Regions from separate parts of the Homo sapiens genome. Here region 2 is linked to region 1. Evidence: fine-mapped expression QTL. A gene starts in region 1. The other region holds a variant in brackets. All regions are shown on one strand. Distances are between the middles of the regions.

Region 1 (4,387 bases):
CTGGGATTTCAACCTAGACAGCCAGGCTTTAAGAACTGGAGGTAGCTGGGCACAGTGGCTCACGCCTATAATCCAGCACTTTGGGAGGCGGAGGCGGGTGGATCACCTGAGGTCAGGAGTTCGAGGCCAGCCTGACCAACACGGAGAAACCCCGTCTCTACCAAAAATACAAAATTAGCCGGGCGTGGTGGTACATGCCTGTAATCCCAGCTACTCGGGAGGCTGAGGCAGGAGAATCACTTGAACCTGGGAGGCGGAGGTTGCGGCGAGCCAAGATCGTGCCATTGCACTCCAGCCTGGGCAACAAGAGTGAAACTCCATCTCAAAAAAAAAAAAAGAACTGGAGGTAAGGAGTTCAAGATTACAGTGAGCTGTGACTGTGCCACTGCACTCCAGCCTGGGTGACAAAGTGAGACCCTGAATTAAAAAACAAAAACCAAAAAAAAAACAACACTCTAAACGCAAAAACAAAAACTGGATGTAAAATTACATTGCGGGGGTAGGGGATGTGGAAAGGAAGAAGGCCAAGCTTAAGAGCAGAAGAGCAGAGGTTTCCCCAGGAAAGCAAACTCCTCAGCCTGTGTCTAGCTGGGTCTGTGCGGCACAGGGCCTGATTTTTGCAAGATGAGGGGCATTTTGGACATGCTATCACTCAGGCCCCTAGAGACAGACCACAGCACCCTCTATTTTAGATCCCAATATATGCCAGAGAAGACAGAAGCCACTGTGTCACCACTTAGCACTAGGTGAGGGAGAGTGAATTTTGGGCCCCTAGGTTGTCCAGGGGTGGGCGCCAGTTCCTGAGCAACCACCGAGCAAACAGTGCAGCACAGGGAGGAATGCCAGACATAGTTGCAAACAAGCCACTCCTTCGGCTCACAGCAAGAGGCTGGGTGAGGGTGGTAGCATGGAGCCTGCTTCATGGTCCCCCCCACCCCTGCCCCCAACAAGAGATCCCAGGCTCTGAATCCAGCCCCAAAAACAACCAGATGCAAGGTAGCCTCTTCCTCACACCAGCTGGCTGGGATAGGAAGTCCTCCCTGATAATCTTCACTGAACTCCAGAGAGCTCCCCCTACGCTGCTCCTGTACTGGATGCACTGAATCTGAATTAATGGTTGAGAAAGCACTTTATAACCAGGAAAACCCAGTGTAACTAACTGCAAGGAAGGACTGGCATTCTTGCTGGGCATATGTGTTCCCCGGGCATTTTCAGTGCCAAAGTCTCCCCAAAGGGAAGAGCTAGAACTGTTCCCTTCACCCACCTCCAACCTGGCACTCGGGCCAGGGGTCAGCTGGCAGGGGGTGAGTCCCCAATGGGCGTGCCCACCAGCTGTTGGGGCTGAGCAGTGGTGGTTCAGGCCCTGGGGTGGTGACCTCACTTCCGCTCCTACCTCCCCACCTCCCCAGCACTCCTCCCATTTGAGGCCCCACCAGGCCAAAATCGAGAAGTCCAAGGTTAACTGTTCTTTCCCACTTTAAGAGCTAATTAAAATAATTAGCCACAATGAACTGTCAAACATTAACCAGAAGAGGCTGCAGGACCAGACAGGCCTCTATCACAGGCCGAGGGATGAGGGGCAGGAATCAAATGGCCATCAAATCCCTCAGCTGGGGTATGGTGCGGGGCGGGGGCGGCCCAGGAGGACCTCGCTGAGCCGAGGTGCCAAGGGGTCAGGAGGTGACTCTGGTCAGGAAGGTGATGTGCAGGCATACGGTGGTGAGAAAAGGGAGTCAGGGTTAGGGTGCGGTGGAGGAGCCAGGAATTCATAAAGCGGTCACCGCCTCAGCAGTCCCTCAAGCCTCCAAAGCAAGGCGCTGGCGTGAGGGGACCCCGCACGGTGCGGCTGCTGAATCCCCTAGGCGGCGGCCCAGGAGGGAACCCGGAGGCGGGAGAGTCGGGGAGAGCGGGAACGCGGGAGCGGGAAGGCTGGCGGCTGGCTCACACGGAAACTCCGGCCCCTGCCAAGAGGTCTCTATTTTGGCGATCCAGTTCTCCACATCATAGGTCTGCGTGCGCGTGTGTGCGTGTGACCCTAAAGCCCTGGCCCCAGAAGCCCCGGGGGCAGTCGGATCCATCTAGCAGCTCCGCCGCGGTCCGCCCCACCTCCTCTGCCCTCGGGCGCCCAGCTTCTGGGGGCCCGCTGTCATGATCGGCCCCGTCACGGAACCCAGGCTGCCGGGGGCGAGGGAAAACAGGGGCCCCTACCCCGACTCCCCGACTCGGGGAATCCATTCCACTTCCATCCCGGGATCGGGAGCCCGGGTTCTCCATCACACGCGCGGCGGGGCGACTCCAGGGCGGCTCGCGACACTCCGCGACTCTCCCGCCCTTCCCTGGGCCCCCAGCCCCACGCCGGGGCCCCGGCGCTCTCGATTCCGCCCTCAAGCAAACTTTTCCACGTCCCCCAAGGCTCGAAGAACCGGCGCCATCGACGTACCTGAGGCCGAGTGGCTCACGGGCCCAGCTCGGTCGCCGGGCCGGGGTCTGTCTCCGTGGTCCCCGCTCCGGGGGCCGAGACGCGGGTCCCCAGCCCCGCCAGCCCGTCCTCTCCCCTCGGAAGCCGGGCCGGGCGAGCGGCGCCAGGAACTCGGCGCCGGCGAAAGGAGAAGTGGAAGTTGAGCGCGGCGCCCGGTCGGTCCCCGCGGCCGCCGGGGCCGCCGTCCCCCGCCCTCCTCCCCGCCCGCCCTTCTTCCCCGCCCGCCTGCCCCCGCCACCCCGCGCCCGTGACTCACCTCGGCGCCGGGGCAGGCTGGTCCGGGCGGGCGAGGCGCAGGGCTCTCCCACACTTCGCGCCGCCAATGGCAAGTTGGAGGGAGAGATGCAAATACCAGGTGAGACGGCGGCGCCCCTGATAAAACGGGGCGGGGGGCGGGGTGGAGCGCGCGGGGAGCGGGGCGGACGCCGGGGAGGGCCGGGCCAAGACACGGGGCGGCAGGGGCGCCCGGGGAGGGGGCGCGAACCGGCGCAGACATGCACCGAAACGAGCGAGCGAAAGGGGAAATGCAGTAGAGACACACACGTCCCCGCAGGCGGCGGATGGGGCGGGCGCGAAGGAGGCAGGGCGGGAGGGAGGGAAGAGCCGGAGGGAGGGACCGACGGGAGGGACTGCGGGCGGGCGGGGTGGGGGAGGGAACGAGGGAGGGACGAGGCATCTCGGTGGAAACAGCGCCCGTCCGCCCCGGCCCGCCCGCCGCGGTCGCCAGCACGGCATGGGGAGCCGTGCCAGGGGCCCGCGCGGCCTCTCATTCCCCTCGCGGCTCGCTCGCGCCCGGGGGACCACGAGGCAGGGCGCCCGCAGAGCCCGCGTCGTGCGCCGCGGCCCGGGCGGGCGCTCCCCACTCTGCTTCTAGCCAGCGAGACTCCGAGCTCTCTGCTCGTTCCGCGCCCTTCCCGGTGCGAAGCCCCCATACAACGCCCCGCAGAGAAATCCCTTCCCCGCGGACTCGGGAAGGTTTCGTCCAGCCCCCTCGGCCCGTGCAAGTGGAGACTTGCTTGACGCCTTTGGGCCAAGCCCTGCGCTCCACATTATTGAGCTCCTGGGGTGTGCAGGCCCCAGCGGGAGGGCGGGCCGTGCGGCGGGTGAGGCCGCGAGATGCCCAGAGGATACAATTTTGGAACCATATGCCCGACTCCGCAGAATCCTGGGCGTAACACCTGGGGTGACTGGAGAGTTTCGGCGACTTCTTAGGGAAGTCGAGTCTAGGACTCCTGCGGGAAGTTGGGGTGGGGGACGCTGGCAAGATATGAGTCAGGGGAAGGGCTAGGGGGAGAGGGGCTGGCCCAGCAAGTGCAAAGAGAGCCAGAGTTCGGGTGCTGGAAGAAAGCCCATGCCTACCTTTCTTCCCCTGTCCAAAGCCAGGCTGCTCTGCTCCACGCGCCCACTTGAAAGCCACTCAGGCACGCTCCCCTTCTATCTCCCCTTTGCCCTCTCTGACCTGCCTCAACATCAATACCGCCGCCTACGTGGGTCTGCTGATAGGAGGCTCTGGAGAGAGTGCGCTGGGAATTGTTACTCTGTATAGTTCCACGTGGCCTTTTTGGGGGTGGGGGCAGCAAGGCCTAAGCCTTGGCAGAAAGCATCAAGACTGAAGGAGCCCCAGGGGATGGGGCCTTCTAAAGGGCTTGAGGTTGAAGGACCTACTCAGCCTCCAGCATCGGCCTGCTTCTCCTGCCTTGGGAAAGGATCATCTCAGGCGCAGGACTGGGGGACAGGAGTGGTGGTGGATGATGGCCACAAAGGCAGCTGCAGATTACAAGTTCCCAAGGAAAGATCCTGTGGCTGGACTGGGGCGCCGGCCCCTGAGACCTCCTGGATACTCAGAATCAAGTCCCCAAAACAAGCACTTTGTCTTTTCCAAGCGGGCATGCTTTTCCCAGGGGATTC
Region 2 (4,387 bases), 110 kb after region 1:
GATCATGAGGTCAGGAGATCGAGACCATCCTGGCTAACATGGTGAAACCCCGTCTCTACTACAGATACAAAAAAAATAAAAATAAAAATAAAAATTAGCCGGGCGTGGTGGCGTGTGCCTGTAGTCCCAGCTGCTGGGGAGGCTGAGGCAGCAGAATGGCATGAACCCGGGAGGCGGAGCTTGCAGTGAGCCGAGATCATGCCACTGCACTCCAGCCTGGGTGACAGAGCAAGACTCCATCTCAAAACAAAACAAAACGAAACAAAAACAAAGCGGTATTTTTAAAAGGGCAGGACCAAATTAAAGATCATGAATTCAGAGCTGATTGAATCAAGCATGGTGTGGTAGTCTAGAACTGAGCATAGGGATACATCAAAAAGGATAAAAGATGCAAAGATAGCAAGACTAAGCATGCCTGAAGATATAAAGGATTTTAGGACAGAAACAAAGCAGCATTCAAAACAGAAGACCTTGAGGGCATGGTTGGCTACAAAATTGAATTGATACTACTGGACTAGAAAAAGGGGTCAAGACTCTGAAAGTCATGGGGTAATGAGAATTCAAAATAAGTATTGTCTACAATGAGGTAAAATGGGATGGTGTTAAGAAAGGGGATACAACAAAGCAGAAAGGGATGTAAAGTGCTAGCACTAAAGAAGTAAAGGTATCATAAGGTCAGGCTGACCACCAAAGGGAAAAAAATCCCTGCAAGCCAGGTGCTGAAGCCATCAAAAAACGTGGGTGAATCCTTCAAAGTGGTAGCTGATTATGAGCAGAAAATAATATAGAGGTCTTGTTATAATCTGCAAGAAAACAACTTTTATTGGTTATACCTATTTCTTTTTTAAAAAATAGAAATGAGGTCTTGCTATGTTGCCCAGGCTGGTCTTGAACTCCTAGGCTCAAGCAATCCTCCCTCCTTGGCCTCTTAAAGTGTTGGGATCACAGGCATGAGCCATTGTGCCTGGCTAGTTGTATCTTATTTCTAACTGAAAATAAATGGAACTATCTTAATTAGAATAATGAACTTATATCTGGAAACTTTTTGGTTATTTAAAATAAAATCCAATCTGAAGGAATAAAGCAAGCCCCTGTGAATGAGGTTCAAATGAAAGTAAGGGGGGCTCTGAAGTCTTTCCCTTGTGTAGAGTAGACCATAGGTGCTCAAATTAAGTTGAATCAATGCATGAAAAGGAATTCTAACGGTAGCATCATGACTGGAATATTCCTACAGTCTCTTATGTTTCATTGAATGAATGCAAAGATGGATGATCATAAAGACAAATGGACAGACAGATGCGGGAGACAGAGACAGGATAATGTTCTTAGCATCATTAAAAAGCCTGGAACCTCTCAAAGTGATCGCTGTGAAGAGGATAACACTCAGGAAATTACATATACAGGGGTCCCTGTATCCATGGGGGATTGGTTCTAGGACCTCCTGCAGGTATCCAAATCTGCAGAGACTCAAGTCTCTGATATAAAATGGCATAGTACTTGCACATAAACTATACATATCCTGCTGTATACTTTAAATCATCTCTAGATTTGTGAACCTATGATACCTAATACAATGTAACTGCTATTACATAGTTTTATACTGTATTGTTTAGAGAATAATGGGAAAAAGGTTTGCACATGTTCAGTAAAGACCTAATTTTTTAAAAACACTTTTATCTACAGTTGGTTGAATCCACAGATGTGGAATGCAAGAGCTGATCATATTTATTTGATAAATATATTGAAAACACTTAACATTTTATGTTAAAAAATAACCACTTTTTGAAAGACATAAAAGAAAAAAAAGTCCCATAGAAAAAACAAATTTCCCTAACAAACTCATTTTAATTTCATTAGTCTAATTGTTCTCAGAGTTTTTGTCCCAGTAATTTTATGAGTTACTATGCTGGAAAATAGTACAAGGAACATCTTAGAAGTTCCCTATTGCTAGACCCTTTTAGTTCCTTGATGAGACAAACTTGCTTTCAATAGGATAACTCTGTTTTCAAAAAACAAATGACCCAAATGGAAATTCTGATTGGCAGTTTACATGTTTAACTTACCTCATCATATGATTTACAAAGGCTTTGTTACAGTTAGTATTGTACTTGCAAAAACTGCAGTGGATGTATATAGAAAAGTGGCTTGCAAAATCTTTTATTTTGGAATGACATTCAATGCACTTGTGAATTCCCCGACGACACCTTATGGAGACGGAAAAAAAAGATAAAAAGAGATTATAAAACAAAAATAACAGGGGAAAATCTTATTAACATTTTATTAACTGAAGCCAAAATGTTTAAATTGGTATCTTTAAGTAGACTCATAATTTCAAAATTTGCTTTGAAACAAGCTAGAGTAAGTGTAAAAAATTTAACACCAGTTAACATTTCCCTGGAATAAAAGGGATCAAATAAACCAATTAATCTATCATAAGATAAAAGCACAAAATATAAGTTTAGTGTAAAAGATGAAAATTAGAGAATAAACACAATGACTCAAGTTCTGCTCAGCAG[T/G]TGTAAAAAGTACCTTTTTCTCATTTGCTTGGTCTTTATGCCAGATAAGTGATTATCATGTAAATGTGTAAGAGGGTTTTATGATATGATAAATTATATACATAAGATTAAATTTGTATTGTATATCAGGAATAAAAGATATTACCTTATGTTCTTCAAAGCAAGGCTCATTTTATTTTTTCTGTTGCGCTGTCGCTTTTGCTTGTAAGAGGGTTTTGCTTTGGACTTAGCTATACGTCCCCTTGGCTTACTTGTATTAACTTTACTTGCAGTGGATGTAGTTGCATGAAGCTTACTTGTCTTAGATCTACTGGCATTAGATTTTCTAGGATTTCTAGCAGTTGTATTTTGAGATGTCGGAGGTGTGACCTGAAGAAAAGAAGTGCCTGGAGCGCAACCGAAAGGTGCAGTTGGTAATTTTGACTGGAGAGGTCCAAGTGAAGCTCGAATAGTAACCTATAAAAACAAAGCCAATACATATTTTTAGAAAAGTAACCATCGCATTAGTATTAAAAATATCATTGTAAGCCGTAAATATCACATTTACGGTAAACTGGCAAGGGTCCCAAAACATTTCCAATGGGGCAAAAAATAGTCTTGATGAATGCTGCTACAAAAACTGATATCCATGTGCAAAAGAATGAATTTGAACCCTTACCTCATATTATATACAAAAATTATCTCAAAATGTATTAAAGACCAAATTCTAAAAGGTAAAACTATAAAACTCTTAGAAGAAAATACAGTAGTAAATTCTTGTGAGCATGAGTTAGGCAACGGTTTCTTATATATGACACCAAAAGCACAAGCAACCAAAGAGAAAATAGATGAATAGGCATTTCTTCAAAGAAGATATACAAACGGCCAATAAGCACACAAAGAGATGGTCCACGTCATTAGTCACCAGGGAAATGCAAATGAAATCCCAAATGAGATGTCCCTTCACCAACCAGAATGGCTATAATAAACAGACAATAACAAGTATTGGCTAGGACATAGAGAAATGCGAACCCTCATACATTGCTGGTGGGAATGCACAACAGTGTAGTTACAATGAAAAACAGTTTGGCAGGCTGGGTGTGGTGGCTTAGGCCTGTACTCCCTGAACTTTGGGAGGCCGAGGTGGGCGGATCACTTGAGGTAAGGAGTTTGAGACCAGCCTGGCCAACATGGTGAAACTCCATTTCTTTTAAAAATACAAAAAATTAGCCAGGCATGGTGGCAGGTACCTGTAATCCCAGCTACTCGGGAGGCTGAGGCAGGAAAATTGCTTGAACCCAGGAGGCGGAGGTTGCAGTGTGCCAAGATCGCACCACTGCACTCCAGCCTGGGCAACACGGCAAGACTCCGTCTCAAAAACAAAACAAAACAAAAGAACAAAAAAAGAAAAACAGTTTGGCAGTTTCTTAAAATATTAAAGGTAAGAGTTACCATTTGACTCAGCCATTCTACTCAGAGGTATATACCCATGAGAAATGAAAACATACGTTCACACAAAAACCTGTACATGAATTTTTACAGCACCATTATAGCCAAAAAGAGGAAACAACCCATATGCCCACCAATAGATGAAAGGATAAAATGTAGAATATCTATACAGTGGAGTATTACTCAGCCACAAAAAAGAATGAAGTACTGAAACATGGTACAATATCAATGAACCTACAAAACATTATGCTAAGCGAAAGAAACCAGTCCCTAAAGATGGCATATTGTATGACTCAATTTATATGAAACGTCCAGAATAGGAAAATCCATAGACACTAAAAGCAGACTAAAGTTTGCACAGGTCTAATGGAGGGGAAATAGTGAATGCTAAAGGGTATGAGGTTTCTTTTGAGGGTGATAAAAATGTTTTAAAATTTATTGTA

Evidence for each region. PIP is the estimated chance that this variant, and not a neighbour inherited with it, causes the effect. A credible set is the group of variants that fine-mapping cannot tell apart.
Region 2: its variant is the best candidate, but not a certain one, in a credible set for the expression of ELF4 in whole blood (TOPMed, PIP 0.53).

The regions. Positions count from the first base shown.
Region 1 is chrX:130,107,885-130,112,271 of GRCh38, forward strand. ELF4 (E74 like ETS transcription factor 4) reads right to left here and starts at 2,613. Exons shown (of 9, transcript NM_001421.4): 1 at 2,441-2,613. It also overlaps a transcript of RAB33A not described here. RefSeq lists silencers at 2,495-2,564, 2,645-2,794, 3,045-3,094, 3,105-3,154, 3,225-3,344.
Region 2 is chrX:130,213,130-130,217,516 of GRCh38, forward strand. ZNF280C (zinc finger protein 280C) reads right to left here. Exons shown (of 19, transcript NM_017666.5): 14 at 2,662-2,972; 15 at 2,064-2,204. Among named protein-coding and RNA genes, the nearest start is that of RAB33A, 43 kb to the left of the region's middle. The variant T/G (reference allele first, on the strand shown) is at 2,517.